2 separate regions of the Homo sapiens genome follow, and region 2 is linked to region 1. The links come from fine-mapping of genetic effects on plasma protein levels. A gene starts in region 1. The other region holds a variant in brackets. All regions are shown on one strand. Distances are from middle to middle. Region 1 holds the start of CPM (carboxypeptidase M). Region 2 has its middle 32 kb from the start of TODL.

Region 1 (10,867 bases):
ACTTCAGCACTATTGACATTTTGGGCTGAATAATTCTTTGTTGTGGGAGGCTGTGTTGTGCACTGAAGGATATTTAATGCCTCCCTGCCCTCTGTATCAGCACTAGATGCCAGTAGCTCCCATCCCTAGTTATGACAATCAAAAATGTCTCAAGATATTGCCAAATGTCTGCTGTGGGCACTACTGCCTCAAGTTGAGAACCACTGATCTAACCAATCTGCTGTTGTTTGACATTTAGGTTTTATCTACTTTGTCACAATTTAAAGCAGCAGCACTTATGAAGCTCCTAACATATACAAACTCAACACATCTTCAAATTACTTCTATAGCATAAATTTCTAGCAAGGAATGGCACATACAAAATTTTGATGTCTATTCCCAGATTTCCCTCCAGAAAGATTGTATTAATTTAGAACACCATTGAAACAGCATAAATGTCATTTCCTGAGATCCTGTCTACTTCCAGGTATTGTCAATCTTTTTAATCTTGCTTTGTGATAAGCAAAACAAAGTATTACTTTACCCTTTTAACTTGTAATTCTTTGATTGCTTACCAGGTTGGTAACCTTTACTATATTTATTAGCTATTTGTGTTACTGCTTTTATGAACTGCTTATTCATCTCCTTTGCTCATTCTTTATTTTGTAAGAGCATTAATTCCTTCTTCCAGCTTGTAATTTTTCTCATAACCTGATTTAAACCTTTCTTCTTATAACCTTTATAAGGTTTTCTGTACAGAAGTCATACATTTGTATGTTTTCAAATTATTAGCCTTTTTATTATGGTTTTACCTTTAATGGTGCCATACTTAGAAAGATCACCTCTAGGTCCAGGCCTGGTGGCTCACACCTGTAATCCCAGCACTCTGGGAGGCTGAGGCAGGCAGATAATTTGAGGCCAGGAGTTCGAGACCATCCTGGCCAACGTGGTGAAACCCCGTCTCTACTAAAAATACAAAAATTAGCCAGGCGTGGTGGTGGGCACCTGTAATCCCAGCTACTCAGGAGGCTGAGGAAGGAGAATTGCTTGAACCCGGGAGGTGGAGGTTGCAGTGAGCTAAAATTGTGCCACTGCACTCCAGCCTGGGCAACAGAGCAAGACTCTATCTCAAAAAAAAAGAAGAAAGAAAGAAGATCACCTCTAAAATCTCTAAACTTCAGTATTTTACTCTATTAGGCTAACCTTTTATTTTGCTGTTATCTTTCATACTCTTAACACTAAATTTTTTTTTCTCTCTTGACCAGTGCACCTTAAACTTGAATGTACATATACATCATCTGGAAATCTTATTAAAATGTGTGTTCTGATTCAGTAGGTTTGGAGTGGAGTGACAGATTCTACATTTCCAACAAGCTCCCAGGTGATGCCAGTGCTGTCCCTGGCCTGCACTCTGAGTTACTAGCTCCTAAACCTTCAGCACTCAGTCCTCTGTACCCCCTACCTCCATTCTCTGACTCCTTCCTGAAGTTGCCTCCCTTCCTACCTAGTGTGAACCCCAATGGCAGCAATTTCAACTATAGCTCATCTCTGTTTTTCCAGAACAACAATCCTGGCAATCTCCATTCCAGTATTGATGAAGCCACCATTTCTTCCAGTCTCCAGCCACAGCACCCTGCAGGAAATCAGATAGTGTCCACGTACTTCTCTTAAAAAGATAGGATTTCTAAGGTACATCAGCAAGCCTTCACTTTGTTCCCACCCAGTTCCCTTTCCCATTCCTAGAGTAACTTTGCCTAAATTTAATCTTCTCAAGCTCCAGTCCCCCTCCTCAGACCTCTTAGTCAATGAACAACAATGAAAGGGAAACGTCTTCAACCCTTCCAGTGGAAATAACATTTAGCATAGTGACTACTGCACAATTAAAAAAAAAAAAACCTACTCAAAGACTCTACAATGTCATACTAAGACTTCCAACTCTTAGGCCAGGCAAGGTGGCTCACTCATGTAATCCCAGCACTTTGGGAGGCTGAGGCAGAAGGATCACTTGAGGCCAGGAGTTCAAGACTAGCCTGGCCAACATGGTGAAACCTGGTCTCTATTAAAAATGCAGAAGTTAGGCATGTGTGGTGTAAAAATACAAAAGTTACGTAGGTGTGGCGATGCGTGCCTGTAATCCCAGGTACGTTAGAGGCTGAAACACAAGAATCGCTTGAACCTGGAAGGCAGAGGCTGCAGTGAGCTGAGATTGCACCACTGCACTCAAGCCTGGGCAACAGAGTGAGACTGTATCTCAAAACAAACAAACAAACAAACAAACAAACAAACAATAAAACAACTTCTCTTTAAGAAAAAAAAAAAGATGGCCAGGCACGGTGGCTCACGCCTGTAATCCCAGCGATCTGGGAGGCCGAGGCAGGCAGATCGCCCGAGGTCGGGAGTTCCAGACCAGCCTGGCCAACATGGTGAAACCCCGTCTCTACTAAAAATACAAAAATTAGCCGGGCCTGGTGGCAGGTGCCTGTAATCCGAGCTACTCGGTAGGCTGAGGCAGGAGAATTGCTTGAACCTGAGAGGAGGTTGCAGTGAGCCGAGATCATGCCATTGCACTCCAGACTGGGCAACAGAATTGAGACTCCATCTCAAAAAATAAAGAAAGAAATAAAAAATTAAAAAAAAAATTCCAACTCTTGGAAAATTCCCTTTAAAGAGTTACGAATTAAGCTGGTTTATTTATGTAATAAACGCTTCGCACAGTTCTTACAATGTGCCTGCCAACCTTATTTAGGTAGGTACAATTAAGACTTCCACTTTACACACCAGAAAATAAGGCACAGAGTCGACACAGCCACTGAGTGTCAGAGCAAGAATTGGCACTCATCCCGTGAGCGCCTCAGTTCTTTTTTTTTCTTTATATATACTTTAAGTTCTAGGGCACATGTGCACAACTGTGGCACATATACACCACGGAATACTATGCAGCCATAAAAAAGGATGAGTTCATGTCCTTTGTACGGACATGGATGAAGCTGGAAACCATCATTCTCAGCAAACTATCGCAAGGGCAGAGCGCCTCAGTTCTTAAACCACTCTTCTATGCTGCGGCAGAATCACTGGAAGTCTCAGGGAGTCCTGAGTGCGCAATTCTAGGAAAAGTATCTATATCTGTAAGAAAGAAGGGGCAGGGAATCTAACGGTTCTCAGCTCTTGAAGGCACATTAGATTCATTCAAGGTCCTCTCTAAAAATACACTTTCTTGGGCCTCCACGAGAAAAATTCTATTCAATTAGTCGTGGGCTTGCATCCGTATTTTTAGTCTGTAAAAGTGGAATGTTATCTCAAATCAGTGGTTTTCAAACTTTTTATATTCTGCGGACCTTGACACGGGCCCCCAATACCCTGACACGGTTACTTACAATCCGGGAGAGAGTGGGAGAAAGGGGGAGAGAGGGAAGGGGAGAGGGGGAGGGGAGAGAGAGAGAATGAATGAGAATGAATCTTTTAGAGAGGTAGAGGGGGTTGGCCCGTGCCACAAACCACCTCTCAGGTTTGAGTGAAGCCTTCGTTCTCTCTCGTGCAGAGACCATGCCATCCTTCCAGAAAGGAGCATTTTAGGACGTTTTAGGACGAGAGACCTGTAATTGGCCTAAGACTCAGGTGCAGGTGGAGGAAGCATCGGATTTACAACAGTGGTCCTGCCTTCTTCGATGTGACTTCCAGTTTTAAATTCAATTCTAATTTACACAAATCCCACCCACTATGTAAACTTGTTGGAAAATGTCCTGCACTCTGCACTTCGTGGCATTTAAAACTTCCACACACGCGCGCGTTCTTTCTCGAAGCCCCGTGATTGCTTAGCCTCGCTGGGCAGCTTGGCACTGCTGGGAGCTTGGCTCGCCCTGCCGGGGCCGACGCCGCCCGTCCCGCAGGAGCCCGCGCGGGGCTCAGGGCACTCAGGACTCCGCATGCGTCCCGGCTCCAGGTGGGCCCCGGCACCGCCAACCGCAGGAAACCCGCCGAGCCCTAAACGTCTCCCAAGCGGCTGCAGTCTGCGACAGAGAGTGTCCCTCGGTGGAGCGCCCTGTGGCTGCCCAGGCTACAGCCGTGGCCGAGGCGAGGACACACTTCTGACCTGGGGCTCCAGCAAAGACTGTCCGCGAGCGGCGACTCCATGCCCGCAGCCCTCCGCCCAGCTCAGCCGCCCGGCCGCGGGCACCAGCAGCCGCGCCACGAAAGGGCGCACCGCGCGGGCGCCGTCTCTCCTAGGTGCGAAGGCGGCTGAGGCCCCGCCCGGGAGGCACCCGCGCGGCTCCGGAGTGGGCCGGAGGGACGTCCGGGGGCGGGGCCCGGGCGCGCCCGCCCTCTGACCGGGCTATAACACCCGGCCCCGCCGGGCGGCCGCGGGTGGGTAGAGGTGCGCGCCTGGGACCTGGTGAGGCTGGGGGTGCGCGGGGCCGGGCGCAGCTGTGGCAGCTGCCGGACGGCGGAGGCGCCAGGAGGAGGAGGAGAGGGAGGCGCGGGCGGCTGGGTCGAGGGCACCGAGGCTGCCCGTGCTCCCGGTCTCTGGTTGCACGGCTCACTCCCGAAGGTGTTGCTTCCAGCTTTTGCCTCCTTAGGAGGCAGGGAGCGTCAGTGTCGGGAGACCCTGAGACCGGAGTACCGAGACGTAGCTGGTGATGCCCCCGCCTGCCCTCATGTGTTCTCAGGTTCTTCTTATTTTTATTCATCTCTAGAACATGGACTTCCCGTGCCTCTGGCTAGGGCTGTTGCTGCCTTTGGTAGCTGCGCTGGATTTCAACTACCACCGCCAGGAAGGGATGGAAGCGTTTTTGAAGACTGTTGCCCAAAACTACAGTTCTGTCACTCACTTACACAGTATTGGGAAATCTGTGAAAGGTAGGGTCCGTCTCGTGAACACTTTGCCAAACCCTCAGTCCTCCCTTTCAGTATTCATTAAATATGCCCCAGCTTCCTGTCTGCTCTTCCACGCACCTACTCTGAGTGGCACAGAACAAGTCAACCGGTACCGTGCGTGTTGGTTGTTTTCTGCTTTTGTTGGGAGGAATAGTAGGAAGAACTGAATTTTACTGGACTTGTCCATTGTAATTCAGTGTCACTGAGTCCTTTCCATTATTGGAGTTCTTCTGTCTTTTTGGATCTTGCAGACATTGGTTATTTGGGATGTATGTTTTAGTTCCTTTTCAAGATAAACTCCCAAGTAAGTCCGTTTATCCGTTTCAGTTCCCCTTTGTGTGGGCTTCTTTATATATGACTTGGACTGTTAATGTCATTTCTTCATGTCTCTTTTAAACTGAAATAATGCAGTTTTGTTGGTAAGATTTCTGTGTCATCTGTAGTTAGCCTTTTATTTAAAGTTATGCAAAACTATCATTTCTGCAAGTTTCTTTTAATCTAAGTAGTACAGTTCTGTTGGTTAGATTTGTGTCGTGTATAATTAGCCCTATGGCTTAAAGTTATGCAAAAAAGTGGTTCTATGATTAAAGGCTGTTTTTAAAATGTATCCATTTGAAGAAGACAATGCTAGATAATGAATATATATTAGTAGTGATTGAAACTCTTCCCAGCATTTTCATATTTATCATTAATAATTTATTGTTCTAAGTTAGAAACTACATAAAGTTATTTTCATTTTTATAGACAGCAAGTTTGAATCAGATAAATTAAATAATTTGTTCAAGGTCTCCCAGATGGTGAATTTTATAGCCAGGACTGGCACCCATCCGGCCAAGGCAAATAATTTGATCAGATATCGTTATTTCATCTTTCTTTCTTTCTTTCTTTCTTTCTTTTTTTTTTTTTTTTTTTTTTGGTCAGAGTCTCGCTCTGTTGCCCAGGCTGGAGTGCAGTGGCGTGATCTCGGCTCACTGCAACCTCCGGCTTCCTGAGTTCAAGCAATTCTCCTGCCTCAGTCTCCCGAGTAGCTGGGATTACAGGAATGCGCCACCACAGCTGGCTAATTTTTTTGTATTTTTAGTAGAGATGGGGTTTCACCATATTGGCCAGGCTGGTCTCAAACTCCTGACCTTGTGATCCTCCTGCTTCGGCCTCCCAAAGTGCTAGGATTACAGGTATGAGCCACCGTGCCCGGCCGAGATACCATTATTACTTAATCATCTTTTATTATCCTGATGTTCCCAAAGAGGTTACCAGAAAACTTAGTCCTTAAATCAAAAGTTTCATAAATTTTATGCAATTTGGATCTCAACTTTTTGTAAGGTGTGTTCAAACTCTACCTTGATTTTAGCTCTGAACTTTTGAGTCAATTGAGAGTCTCATAATTACCATATTCTTCATCATTTTTCAAAAAAATCAAGGCTATGGCTTCTATATTAAAGAAAAAGTATTATATAAATGTATTTATGTGCAATGCGAAGTCAATATCCTGGGCTGTGTGTAATAGTAACTTTGTTTTTAAACAGCATTGCCAAAGAGATGGTGCCAGAATTACTCTATATTGCTCTATAATCCAAAATTATAGAGGTTGGGTGTGTGAGAAATCATATCTTGAATCAGCATACGTATTCAGCCTTCTGAAATCATTTTTCCCTAGGGCTAGAGTAGAGCAATTTAAAAAGATCTAGGAATACTAATTATATTAATTAAAAATATATAGAACACAACTAGCTTGAGTTATTGTTCAGTCATCATTTCAACCACAAGATGATGAGGATGTTGTTAATTTTAAGTACTAAGTGATTTGGTAAGGTTTTGTATTTTCAAACACAATGTGCTTGTGACAGTTGGGGGCTCTCTTTCCTAATATGAATCAGCAGTTGTGATCTATCCTGCATGATATCAAACCACAATCACAGTGAAAGTCAGCAGGCTTAATTTTGTTTTTAATTTTACCTTGTATGCACTCTTGCGGTTAAAGGCTTGAGGAGTTATCATGTAAAAATAAAATCTGACACTAGTGGTTAAATATTTGTGTTGAATATGTTGTTCTGAATAATAACTCGGATTAAGAAAAATCCCAAATCTGCCATTTGGCTCCAACTGGTAGATGAAACTGTATGCCAGTAACTGGGAGTCAGTTGCCAAAGTGTCACTGCACATTAGTGTGACAATTGAGAGATGGTGCTCCTTTGTTGGTGGTCTTTTTCACTAGATATTTTCCCTAACCATTCTGCCCTCTGATGTAAGATAAGTTTGCTTAGAAAACAGAATTTATGACCAGGCCCAGTGACTCATGCCTGTAATCCCAGCACCTTGGGAGGCCGAGGCGGGAGGATCACCTGAGGTCAGGAATTTGAGACCAGCCTGGCCAACATGGTGAAACGTTGTCTCTACTAAAAATACAAAAAATTAACCAGACATGGTGGTGTGCACCTGTGGTTCCCGCTACTAGAGAGGCTGAGACCGGAGAATAGCGTGAACCCAGGAGGCAGAGGTTGCAGTGGGCCAAGATCATGCCACTGCACTCCAGCCTGGGTGACAAGAGTGAAACTCTATCTCAAAATAAAAGAAAATAAACAGAATTTATTATACACGTGTTATTTATTTATTTATTTATATTACATGTATTAACGTGGGCAGTCTTACCCAGAAGGGAAAGTAATATTCCTAAGTAACTAAATACATGTTTAGTTTTTGTAAAAACTTAAATATATGTGCTATGCCTATGTAAATATATGCATATCACATATTTTCTTTGTTGTAATTGTGGATTATATTCTGCTTGTTTTTTCATTTCATGTTATTTCCTTAGATATTTCCATGAATTGACAAAGTCGGTAGATGTGAATTCGTTGCTGTTTAGTATTCTATCCTCTTGATTATGTGAATTTTCTTAGTCATTCACCTCTTTGAGCATCTGTATAGTTTTTGGTTAACTCTGTTATAAACAGGGATACTATAAAACCATTGATACATGTCATGATAATTACCTTCTATTATTATTGGTGATTTTTAAAAACGTTTTTATTTTGAAACTTTTAAAATCCACACAAAAGTTAAACACATCTATACCCAGCTTCAGCCATAGTAGACCATATTTCAGTTGAGCCTTTTGAAGGAAATCCCACTGCCTAGTGACATAGTAAAGAAAATCTTAGGTGAAACAAGAGAAGCAAAAAAGTACTGATGACTTAGTTCAGAAAAATCAGAAAAGGTACAGTGTTCATCAGTTCGTTCGTTCAATCCTCCGTTCAATTAAGGAAGCACCTCCCATTTTTTGCCCCAACCCCTTTGTCTAGAAGGATGCCTGGCACATAATCAATAATCTATATCTATTTATTTAATGGATCAAATATTTGCTGAGCAAAAGGCATGGGAAGCAAACAAACGTGTGTGTCATTCATTCCCTGCCATTAGGTAGCTCATTTTCAAATACAAATGTATTTACTGTGAATTTCTCAGGGTAGTCTCTCCACACACACCCCAAAATTAGTTTAGGAACATTTTATTATTTTTTTAAAAAATGAACCCTTGTGTTGAGGGTTGACTATCAATAGATAGCAATGAAAGAACTGCTCTGCTACATACAAAACCCCAAAGGGCCATTTTAAATGAGATTTCCTACCATCTATTTTAAGAATCTTGCATTGACTGGGTGTGGTGGCTCACGTCTATAATCCCAGCACTTCAGGAGACCAGCCTAGGCAACATGGGAGACTCCATTTCTTAAAAAAAAAAAAAAAAATTTAATTAACCAGGCATAATGGTGCATGCCTGTGGTCCCAGCTACTTGGGAAACTGAGGCAGGAGAATCACTTGAGCCTGGGAGTTCAAGGCTGCAGTGGGCCATGATCGTGCCACCGTACTCCAGCCTGGCCTACAGAGCAAGACCCTGTCTCAAAAAAAAAAAAAAAGTATCTTGTCTTGCCTCCTGCTAAGTCTGATCATCATTGTATCTGAATACAGTAGGCGGGATAATAACACCTTCCTTACTAGTGATAATACTATTAGAGATTTTTTAAAGCCAGCCAAATTTAGTAGTCTCTGTTATCAAGTACTTTCCATGTAGTAAATAGTTTAAGACATTATTTCGATCTCAGCAACTCAAAGTAGGCCTTATCCTCATTTACAAAACAGGTAAAATGAGGCACAGAGAGGTTAATTAACTTGCTGAAGATAACATAGCTAAGTATTAGAAGATTCAAACTCAGATCTGCCTATTTCCCAAGCACCTCTCTATTCTCTTTTAAAAAGCAGCTTGACATTTAAGTCTTTAATCCATCTTGAATTAATTTTTGTATAAGGTGTAAGGAAGGGATCCAGTTTCAGCTTTCTACATATGGCTAGCCAGTTTTCCCAGCACCATTTATTGAATAGGGAATCCTTTCCCCATTGCTTGTTTTTCTCAGGTTTGTCAAAGATCAGATAGTTGTAGATATGCGGCGTTATTTCTGAGGTCTCTGTTCTGTTCCATTGATTTATATCTCTGCTTTGGTACCAGTACCATGCTGTTTTGGTTACTGTAGCCTCGTAGTATAGTTTGAAGTCAGGTAGCATGATGCCTCCAGCTTTGCTCTTTTGGCTTAGGACTGACTTGGCAATGCGGGCTCTTTTTTGGTTCCATATGAACTTTAAAGTAGTTTTTTCCAATTCTGTGAAGAAAGTCATTGGTGGCTTGATGGGGATGGCATTGAATCTATAAATTACCTTGGGCAGTATGGCCATTTTCACGATATTGATTCTTCCTACCCATGAGCATGGAATTGTTCTTCCATTTGTTTGTATCCTCTTTTATTTCATTGAGCAGTGGTTTGTAGTTCTCCTTGAAGAGGCCCTTCATGTCCCTTGTAAGTTGGATTCCTAGGTATTTTATTCTCTTTGAAGCAATTGTGAATGGGAGTTCACTCATGATTTGGCTCTCTGTTTGTCTGTTACTGGTGTAAGACTTAAACGTTAGACCTAAAACCATAAAAACCCTAGAAGAAAACCTAGGCATTACCATTCAGGACATAGGCACGGGCAAGGACTTCATGTCTAAAACACCAAAAGCAATGGCAACAAAAGCCAAAATTGACAAATGGGATCTAATTAAACTAAAGAGCTTCTGCACAGCAAAAGAAACTACCATCAGAGTGAACAGGCAACCTCCAAAATGGGAGAAAATTTTCGCAACCTACTCATCTGACAAAGGGCTAATATCCAGAATCTACAATGAACTCAAACAAATTTACAAGAAAAAAACAGACAACCCCATCGAGAAGTGGGTGAAGGACATGAACAGACACTTCTCAAAAGAAGACATTTATGCAGCCAAAAAACACATGAAAAAATGCTCACCATCACTGGCCATCAGAGAAATGCAAATCAAAACCACAATGAGATACCATCTCACACCAGTTAGAATGGCGATCATTAAAAAGTCAGGAAACAACAGGTGCTGGAGAGGATGTGGAGAAATAGGAACACTTTTACACTGTTGGTGGGACTGTAAACTAGTTCAACCATTGTGGAAGTCAGTGTGGCGATTCCTCAGGGATCTAGAACTAGAAATACCATTTGACCCAGCCATCCCATTACTGGGTATATACCCAAAGGACTATAAATCATGCTGGTATAAAGACACATGCACATGTATGTTTATTGCGGCACTATTCACAATAGCAAATACTTGGAACCAACCCAAATGTCCAACAACGATAGACTGGATTAAGAAAATGTGGCACATATACACCATAGAATACTATGCAGCCACAAAGAATGATGAGTTCATGTCCTTTGTAGGGACATGGATGAAATTGGAAATCATCATTCTCAGTAAACTATCGCAAGAACAAAAAACCAAACACCACATATTCTCACTCATAGGTGGGAATTGAACAATGAGAACACATTGGACACAGGAAGGGGAACATCACACTCTGGGGACTGTTGTGGGGTTGGGGGAGCGGGGAGGGATAGCATTAGGAGATATACCTAATGCTAAATGACGAGTTAATGGGTGCAGCACACCAGC
Region 2 (10,867 bases), 110 kb before region 1:
GGGGCAGCTGGCCTCAGTGAGTCATTGCTCCTGTCTCTTGAGGATGCAGCTCTCCTCACCTTTGAAAGGGTGATGAGGGCGTGGGCAGCTGAGCAGAATCAGGCCTGTTGAGACGTCTCTTACCACTCAAGCCTGGTTACACTGAACTCCATCCTGATCAGCCCAGTGAAAAATAAAAAACAAAGAGTTCCAGTCACCAAGGAGTTGGCAAGCTCAGCAGCAAGTAGGTTAGGTGGATTTATTTATTTGTTATTTATTAATTTTTTTTACTTGAGTGGCTTTTCTGGGCTTTCATAACCCGCTGCAGTTAGCTTTTGCTGTTCTTGCGCTGGATCGAAATCATTTCCTTAGACTTCTGTCTTTGCTGCTGCTACTCCTTAAGGGCAGGAGCTTTGTCTCATTCTTTGTTATATTCCCAGAGCCTAATCCAGTGCCAGGCATACCTGCCATGTACTCAGAAAAGATTTGTTGAGCAAAACAGGATTGGGCTTAGAGTAAAGAAAAAATTGCACTGTACTAAAACAGCCGTCTCTCTGGATCCACTTTGTGGTTAATCCAATATAAGAAAATGATAATTAGATTACATTTAATGTTTTATAATTATATATTTCTAGCCTAAGAATTTTAGTAGCTGGTGAGAATAAACTTGACGCCCACGGACTGAAGCTCTCAAAGCATACTTTTAGTATTATACATATAAACATGAATCAAAAGTAAACCAGCATTTAGAAAATATATTTTAAACTGCTTAGCATTCTCTTTTTAGAAATTATCAGCCAAGCATGGTGGCTCATGCCTGTAATCTCAGCACTTTGGGAGGCTAAGGTGGGTGGATCACTTGAGATCAGGAGTTCGAGACCAGCCTGGCCAACATGGTGAAACCCCATCTCCACTAAAAATACAAAAATTAGCCAGGCATGGTGGCGGGCGCCTGTAATCCCGGGTGGCTACTTGGGAGGCTAAGACAGGAGAATCGTTCGAACCCAGGAGGCAGAGGTTGCAGTGAGCTGAGATTGCACCACTGCACTCCAGCCTGGGACACAGCGAGATTGTATCTCCAAAAAAAATAAACAAAACAAAAACAAAAAACAAAAAAACCACAAAATTATCTATAAAATCATTTTCTTTACAAACAACAAAATAATCAGTTTAGTAAAAAAAAAATTTTTTTAGTGATCCTGGAATAAAGTTTCCCACAAATGAAAGTTATAACTTACTGGGGAGATAAATAGAGATGTGAATTACAGGAAACAGGTCATGTTCCTTCTATTAAAAAAAAACAAACAGCAATAAGTTTTTACTGTTTTCTCTTTTATTTTAAAAGGAACAACTTTTCCTTGATAAAACTTGGAAAAATATGGATAAGGGATTTAAAAAATCATCCTAATCTACATTCTATAAATAATCAATGCAGAGAGTTTGAGTATTTCTTTTTAGTCTTATTTCTATACATTCACATAATTATTACATGGTTGAGATTGTATTGTTTACATGGTTTCACATCTGGTTCCTTTTTTACTTAATGTCATAGCTTGAGCCCCATTAAAAAAATAAAACGGTGACACTGATACACTTTTGGACAAGACCATGTTTGGCCTTGCCTTTTTCATGTTGGTGAGTGACAAACTGACCATCTCACTCTTGTCCCAGTACCATTCCTGGGGTAGAGATGGGCTGGGCTTAGCAGTATAGTCTCTGGCTTTATGCACAACTGGGCCTTATTTTTAATGTATCTGGTTATGTCTCAAACACCTGACCAAATATTGCACCTTAGGAGGGGCAGGAGGAAGAGCAGTACCCAGAGGAAAGCAACAAATGTGGTGAAAGGGTCGTCTAAGGAAGGAAAGAACTGGGTTGCTTTCCCTGAACACAGAGGAGAATAGTAATAGTGAGTGGCCTGGCTCACTGGGAGTCATGACTGATTTGCTTTCACTACTCTGCTGGGTGTCTGCCTGGGCTCCTCCCACCCTCTCCACCTGCTGGGTCCCTGGGAGGCTGACCTGCAGGAGCGGCTCCACAGGCTCTCTTGCCCTGTGACTTCAAGCTGGGTTGGCCAGTGGGGAGCCCTGATGGGCTTAAGGAGAATGACACTGGTGTATTCACTCTCCAGCTCCCTTTCTGTGGAGTCACTGCAGGCTGGCTGTATCTCCCCACCAAAGGCCACACATGCCCCGTCATGCGCCCTCTCCATGGGGCCCTCTGACTCTGCCTCTGGTAAGCACCTTCTCCTCTTGTCCTGTCAGGTCTGGGATGGATGGGGGATAGAGGGGTGGTAGCAGTGCTTGTCATTACTAATTCTGGGCACTGCACTACTCTTTTCCCTACACTTTGACGATCTTTTAAATAGCCTTCTTTTAAACTCTTCAAATTATCCAATATGAGGGCACCCTTTATTTCCTGCCAAGATTCTGATAGAAATATTGAAACCACATGTCGCTCCTCCAAGGCTAGCATATTTCATTCAATATTCAGAATCCAACTATTACCTGAGTTTCCTCAGCAGGGTCATTTGAGGATAGTAAATGTATAAATGACCCATCTCCAGTTCCAGCAAGTGGCTGTTTCTAATGGCGCTGCTGCTGCTGGCGATGACGAACAGTAATGCCAGCTGCCGTCATGTACCCATTCAATGCCTGGGCCACATACCCTTCATGACTGGGCTTGATCCTCAGAACAAGTCATTAACAAGGTGGCTTTTGTTCCCACTTTAGAGTTGAGTAAATCAAGTATCTAGAAATTTAGACTAATGTGTGCACATCCATTGCCTCACCTCCTTTAAACCTTGACTCAAATGACATTTTCTCAGTTAAGCCTTTCCGGGCTACTCTAATTTTAACATTTCCCATGCCCCTTCCCTGCTTTATTTTTCTCCTCAGCATATCACTGGCTAATATACCTTTTTCTCCTCATTTGTCTTGATTAATGTCTATCTCACTCCACTTGAATGTAAGCTTCATGAAGACAGTGTTTTGTTTTCTGTTTTTTTTGTTGTTTGTTTTTATACGGTCTTGCTCTATTGTCCAGGCTGGAGTGCAGTGGCTCAATCACAGCTCACTGCAGCCTCGAACTCCTGGGCTCAAGCGATCCTCCCACCTCAGCCTCCCAAGTAGCTGGGTAGCTGGGACTATAATGCTCAGCTAATTTTTAAAAAGTTTTTCTTAGAGATGGAGGCCTTGCTTTGTTGCCCAGGCTGGTCCTGAACTCCTAGCTTCAAGTCATCCTCCTGTCTCACCCTCCCAAAGCACTGGGATTAGAGGTGTGAGCAACCATGTCTGGTGTTTTATTCACTGCTTTATCCCAGCACTTAAAATGATTCCTGGCACATAGTAGGTCCTGAGTGTGTATATATATATATACACACACACATATATATACACATATATACACATATATACATATATACACATATATACACATATATATACACATATATACACATATATATACACACATATACACACACACACACACATATATATATATATACACACACATATTTATTCAGGACCTACTATGTGCCAGGCATATATCAATCAATACATTATTATTGCTGGCACATAGTAGGTCCTGAATAAATATGTGTATATATATATATACACACATATATATATGTGTATATATATATATATACACATATATATGTGTATATATATGTATACACATATATATATGTGTATATATATGTATATACATATGTATATATGTGTATATATATGTATATACATATGTATATATGTGTATATATATGTATATACATATGTATATATGTGTATATATATGTATATACATATGTATATATGTGTATATATATGTATATACATATGTATATATGTGTATATATATGTATATACATATGTATATATGTGTATATATATGTATATACATATGTATATATGTGTATATATGTATATATGTATATGCATATGTATATATGTGTATATATGTATATATATGTGTATATATCTGTGTGTGTATATATGTATATACACACACACACGTATTTATTCAGGACCTACTATGTGCCAGGGATCATTTTAAGTGCTGGGATGAAGCAGTGAATAAAACACCAGACATGGTTGCTCACAACTCTAATCCCAGTGCTTTGGGAGGGTGAGACAGGAGGATGACTTGAGGCTAGGAGTTCAGGACCAGCCTGGACAACATAGCAAGGCCCCCATCTCTAAGAAAAACTTTTTAAAAATTAGCTGAGCATGGTGGCACATGCTTATAGTCCCAGCTACCCAGCTACTTGGGAGGCTGAGGTGGGAGGATCGCTCGAGCCCAGAAGTTCGAGGCTGCAGTGAGCTGTGATTGAGCCACTGCACTCCAGCCTGGGCAACAGAGCAAGACTGTATTAAAAAAAAAAAGAAAAAGAAAAAGAAAAAAACACTGTCTTCATGGAGCTTATGTTCAAGTGGAGTGAGATAGACATTAATCAAGACAAATGAGGAGAAAAAGCTATATTAGCCAATGATATGCTGAGGAGAAAAATAAAGCAGGGAAGGGGCATAGGAAATGTTAAAATTGGAGTATATATACATATTTATTCAGGACCTACTACGTACCAGGAATATATATATATAGCAATTCTCCTGCCTCAGCCTCCCAAGTAGCTGAGATTACAGGCGTGTGCCACCACACCTAACGAATTTTTTGTATTTTTTAGTAGAGATGGGATTTCAAGACCATGGCTGGTCTTGAACTCCTGACCTCAGGTGATCCATCCGCCTCGGCTTCCCAAAGTGCTGGGACTACAGCTATGAGCCTCCGCGCCTGGCCTTGAATAAATATTTTTAAATGAATGGATGATAAAGTCAGAATTCAGAGTCAGGTCTGTCTACCTTGAAGGTCTTTGTTTTTCTACAATATCCTCCTTAGCTAGTCACAAGCAATGTAACTAGATAACAGCCTCCAAGAGAAAACACAATAGCATTATTTTGTACTAGATGTAACCATTATGCAACCTGTTATGACTGTAACATGAGACCACTAATGAAAAAAAACAAAATGATGCTGACATATTTGTTTTTAAAAATGCGTTTACTACCAAGACAACGAGACATATGGTAAGACCATGTGGGCTTTCACAGAAATGAGGAACCATTTGGAATGGAGAAGAAAGAATATTGAGCAATGGATTTTGGTGCAGATAGCAGCCACTCACTATTGACTCAGTGAAGGTGCAGGTGCTCATGGAGTGAATAGAAGCTTTCTTCAGGGTCAGAAGAGACAGATGACATAGGCATGCAAGTTGAGAATGCATGGCCAACTGGTGGGAGCATGGGTCTGGAAGAGGCAGACATTCTGGAACTGAATCCTGAATGTTGCCTTTTCCTTGGACTTTGAGTGCTTTATGCTTCATTTCCCATGGTACTTAGGAAAGGGGGAAGGAATAGTAATGACTGAACAGATTGGTGGTAAGAAATACATTCAGCGGCGGCTGGGCACAGCGGCTCACACCTATAATCCCTGCACTTTGGGAGGCCAAGGTGGGTGGGTCACGAGGTCAAGAGATCGAGACCATCCTGGCCAACATGGTGAAACCCCGT[C/G]TTTACTAAAAATACAAAAATTAGCTGGGTGTGTTGGTGTGCGCCTGTAGTCCCAGCTACTGGGGAGGCTGAGGCAGGAGACTCACTTGAACCTGGGAGGTGGAGGTTGCAATGAGCCGAGATTGCGCCACTGCACTCCAGCCTGGTGACAGAACGAGACTCGGTCTAAAAAAAGAAAAGAAAAGAAATACATTCAGCAGCAAGTTGCAAAGTCCTTGCTTTCCAACTGTGGATATTCCAGAGAGATCAATGATTACCTGGTGACTAGAGCATAGGCTGTGGCCTTAGACACACATGGGTTTACCTGCTTGCTCCACCACTCACCTTGACCTTGAGAAAGCTACTTAACCTTGCTAAGCATCAGTTTCCTTGGTTACATAATTGGATAATAATAGTATTGATTTCATTGTTATAAAGATTACAGGAGATAACCCTTGCACCTAGCACAGAAGAGGTGCCCAATAAATAAGTGTTCAAAATCACAGTTATGTTGGACTAATAACTGGATTTGGATGGAGTCAAATTGCTGACCAGAGGGAGTTACCACTCTCTCCAGCATGAGGTCTCCTGTCATTACAGGGAAGGGTAATAGTGATAGAGGACCTCAGGAACTTATCCCACCCAGGATCTGGGACCTCTGACATCACTAGGTAACAGTTTTTCCTTCTCATAGAAAGCGGGTAGAATTAAAAGACTGGACTATTTGTTCAAAGTTCTCTGGGTGCCGCTTCCCAGAGAAAGGCTCTATTTTGCCCAAAATCTTCTTAAAGATTGTGCCTGCTTGTGGTTTAACATTGCTATTAGAAATATGTAGAAGCTTGCCCTTTGGCATCCCAAACGACATAGGAAAATTATGAGTGATTGTCACAAAGGGCCTATAATTTATTCCCTGAAAAAAATAATAAAATGACTGAGAAGACGCCTCCCACCTTAGGAAATGCAGCCCACCAGGACTGCTGGACTCATCAGCAATGCATGAACATGCCCTCTCTTTTCTACCCCCAAGAATGTAGACATTACCTACTAGCCACGTGAGGGTATTTAAATTTAAATTGATTTAAAAATATTAAAAAGTCAGCTCTTCAGTGGCATCGACCACGTTTCTAGTGCTCCATAGCTGTATGTGGCTAGTAGATACCATATTGGATTCTGCAGATATGGAATATTTCTATCATCATGGAAGGATCTACTGGATTGTGCTGTCTAGTGGGTAATGCCAGCTCAAGGCTCAGAGTCATTCAGACAAAGTAAAAAGCTTCATTTTCAGACCAGCGTTGCAAGTGGTAAGGAAAAATTGAATATTGCTTAGCATGGAATATCATGGAGAAAATAAGAGACCAGAAAATCTTTTCAACCGGACTCTAAGTGTCCTCAAACTTCCATGTCACTGCGATTTTTTTAAAAGTGTGATCCAATCTAGAGAGAGCATTGTGCCTGCATTTTGCCACATCTTAAAATAATGATTCAAATCTTCTCTAAAATATAATTTTATTGTAGAACTGTAAGTCAAGCAAACACTTAGAATCCTGAAGAACCCTCACTCAGGTCCTTACTGAAGGCTCAAACGCTGTGTCTCAACTAAGGCAAAAGAGGTTTTGGAGATTTTTAATGAAACAGGGCCCTGGCTCTAGAGGCCTGGGTACCTCACATGACTCAGATCACCACCTACTACCCTGACACCCCTCTCCCTTATGTCTTCTTCCCCCCAAACACATTCACTCAGCCATCTCTAACCCTTTCTATTCCACTTCCTGTGTTGCCTCCCAACCTCTGCCCCGGTCATTGGTCATTGGTATTGGTCATTCTCAGTCAATTCAAGCTCCTGTGATGGATGAGGGATGGGTCAAGTAGGGTGGAAGGTCCTTAAAACCTTGAAAAGTGGGCCGGGCAAGGTGGCTCACACCTGTAATCCCAGCACTTTGGGAGGCTGAGGTGGGTGGATCACCTGAGGTCAGGAGTTCGAGATCAGCCTGGCCAACATGGTGAACCCCCATCTCTACTAAAAATACAAAAAAAATGAGCCGGGCGTGGTGGTGGGCACCTGTAATCCCAGCTACTCAGGAGGCTGAGGCAGGAGAATCGCTTGAATCCAGGAGGTGGAGGTTGCAGTGAGCTGAAATCACGACATTGCACTCCAGCCTGGGTGACAAGAGCAAGACTCTGTCAAAAAAAAAAACAAAAAACCTTGAAAGATGAATGGAGCAAGAGAGTCACAGAGGCCCCTGTGGCAGTCTGATTGCAGGACCACGGAATAAAGCATCTAAAAAACAACCTGAGCTTTTGCACACAGTGAAAAACACAAACACAAAAACAAAACCTCCTACTAGCATTTTCGTATTATGCTAAGAGTCGTTGTCTCCTTCTTGGTTTCGAGTTAAATTTTAAACAGCTCTCTCTTATTACTTTAGGCTCAGTAGCTGTTGAGCATTAGGAAAGCAGACATAAAAAGACTTGTTCTGCCACACTGGCAACCTTGAATAGCCCACAGGCTCACAAGGCTAGGCTATATCATCAGTGCCAAATAAAATGAGAGAAGTTTCTAAATATAAGCAAGAAGAGTCTTCAAATATCCAAGAAAACAAGAATGATCTTATTTCCAAAGGAAATAATGTAGGGTGGTTGCCCCTGCAGTTTAGTTAAAGGGCTAGTAAATTCCCCAAGTCAGTATTTGTGAAGCTCTTTACATTTCTTAGAAAAAAAACAGCCCAGTGATCCCTCAAGTTAATATCATCCCATTGTGCAGTTTACATTCCTCGCACAGTGTTTCCACTGCTCTGGAAAAAGCCTACTGTGGCCCAGTGGTTTTCAGAATCTGCAAAGCTATGAAAGCTGCTCTTAAATGAAATCTGACAAGAAGCCTGATATGTAAAAGAGACGGAAGTGAAGCTGCTCTGGTTGAAGGAGGAAGGAGGCCCAGGCTGTCACCTCGGAGTCCCTACGGAACCTGGAGGGCTTGTGGAGCACCATTCGAGCTTCACTACCCCATATGGACTTATTAGAAACCTCACACTGCACATTTCAATGTCAAAGATGCTCGGGTTGGGGAAGATTATCATCTGTCACTTTCAAAAGAAGTTTGTAAACGATGCTGCAAGCAATTACTTCAAGGACCAAGCAAATTCAAGGATGCTGAGACTAAAAAGAATTATTCATCCACATTTAATATTTGTCTGCCACACTCATGCAAAAGAGTGAATTCTTTGCAGCTTTAGTGTTATTTTAATAGGTTATTGCTATTGCTTTTACCTTTATGGCATGAGAGGGCTTCTGTACCTGTACAGACCAATGTCCAGAAGTCCAGTAAGTGACAACATGAAAGAATAAAGCAAACATTTCATTAAAACTTTTTTCTTTTTCCTTTTTTTATTGAGGTAAAATAAACATGAAATTTACCATCTTTACCATTTTTTTTTCTTTTTCTTTTTGAGACGGAGTCTCACTCTGTCGCCCAGGCTAGAGTGCAGTGGTGAGATATCAGCTCACTGCAACCTCCACCTCCTGCGTTCAAGGATTCCCCAGCCTCAGCCTCCTGAGTAGCTGGGATTACAGGCACCCGCACCACACCCAGTTAATTTTTGTATTTTTAGTAGAGATGGGATTTCGCCATGTTGGCCAGACTGGTCTCGAACTCCTGACCTCAGGATCCACCCACCTTGGCCTCCCAATGTGCTGGGATTACAGGCATGAGCCACCCAACCTGGCCTCATCTTTACCATTTTTAAACATACAGTTCTGTGGTAATAAATCCACTTAGAATCTTTTTCCCTTTATTTTCCTCTCCTGCAAAGGTCTCATTTTCAATTTACAAAACATTTTACAAATTATTGCTTAAAGATGATCACATTCTAAATTTTTATTTTGCGATGCATAGCATTTTGGTGCTAGGAGAAGAAAAAGAAGATATTGGTGTCAGGGGCAGCTACAGGACAATAGGGGAAAAAAGAAAGAAAATTTTCAGGGGAGATTTTTGGTGTTCTTAGAGGTGGCTTTCATGCCCTGTAAAGATTGCTCGGGTCTTTTCTATATTCCTTTACATTTTAAATGACAACTGAAAAAGTTTTGTTCTTTCTTAAGATGTCAACTTATAAATCTTATTGTTGCATTTATTAATACAAATCTAGAAGAGTTCAATAATCACATTTTAGCCTTTACAGCTTAATCTTTTAAGCATTTAAAATTATACTTATAATTTTAATATAAATAAATTTTTTTGCCTTAGTTGGTTATCAAATGAACTTTATTGTATATTTATATAATTCTTGTACATCTAATTAAATTTACAAAGATGGTTAAACTTAAGTTCTTTTAATTATTCCATTATTGCTTGTAATCCAAGTAAAATTATCTTATTCCTCTGAAGTCTAAATCAACCCAATTAACTCTTTCTAAATTGGAATCACAACTTGCTAGATTCCTTAAAATGCCAAATTCTTAAATACTGCAAGCACTTAGAATACAAGAAAAACACAGATTATTCTAAACTTAACATGGAAGTATAAATAATTTGAGTTTTATTTATTTCATCATTTTTCTATTTAATAATAAATCTTTTCAATGAGAAAATAACGTCAGCCCAAACCATAGCTGATGTTTTTGACCCAGTGCACTGAGCTTCTTAATTGTACTCAGAAAGCTCCTGTCCAGACCACAGGATTCCATCCTTTTATTTAATTCTAATGGGTCACATGAAGCCCAGATCCTTTTAATAGTGACCATAATGAGCTTCTATAATTTTCAAAAAGGGTGGGTGTCCTAGACCATCCCCTTGAGTTTAAATCATATTATTACCTAATTGTCTTTATTATTGGAAATCTGTAAGTCCATTAAAATTGTAACTAACTCTTGTACTTCTTTGGGTCTTCTAAAATAGAAATGTTATTTTATTTAATTCTTCTTGCCGTGAGGATTGGTCTAATTAGTCACAAATAAAATCATGCTGATAACAAATAATAAAGAAAAGGACTGTGGAATTAAATACAATTTTATAGAAAAGGTTTGAGCCCAAAAAGAGAAAATACAATTGCAGATGAAGGAAATAACTAAAAAGTTAGTTAAGTGGGCATTATTTAAGACCTTTTTTGTTTTTGTTTTTCGTTTTTTTTGTTTTTTTTTTTTTTTTGGAGACAGGGTCTTGCCGTGTCACCCAGGCTGGAGTGCAGTGGCAATCTCGAAATCTCGGCTCACTGCAACCTCCGCCTCCTGGGCTCAAGCAATTCTCCTGCCTCAGCCTCCTGAGTAGCTGGGATTACAGATGCACGCTACCATGCCTGGCTAATTTTTGTATTTTTAGTAGAGACGGGGTTTCACCATGTTGGCCA

Evidence for each region. PIP is the chance, under the fine-mapping model, that this variant and not a neighbour inherited with it causes the effect. Protein levels are from the aptamer-based SomaScan assay of Sun 2018.
Region 2: its variant is fine-mapped to the plasma level of the CPM protein (Sun 2018, PIP 0.95).

What each region holds. Positions count from the first base shown.
Region 1 is chr12:68,926,644-68,937,510 of GRCh38, reverse strand. CPM (carboxypeptidase M) reads left to right here and starts at 4,340. Exons shown (of 9, transcript NM_198320.5): 1 at 4,340-4,369; 2 at 4,671-4,833. The coding sequence starts at 4,674. RefSeq lists silencers at 3,961-4,070, 4,101-4,460.
Region 2 is chr12:69,034,307-69,045,173 of GRCh38, reverse strand. No RefSeq gene overlaps it. Among named protein-coding and RNA genes, the nearest start is that of TODL, 32 kb to the right of the region's middle. RefSeq lists enhancers at 1,572-2,071, 2,072-2,573. The variant C/G (reference allele first, on the strand shown) is at 5,550.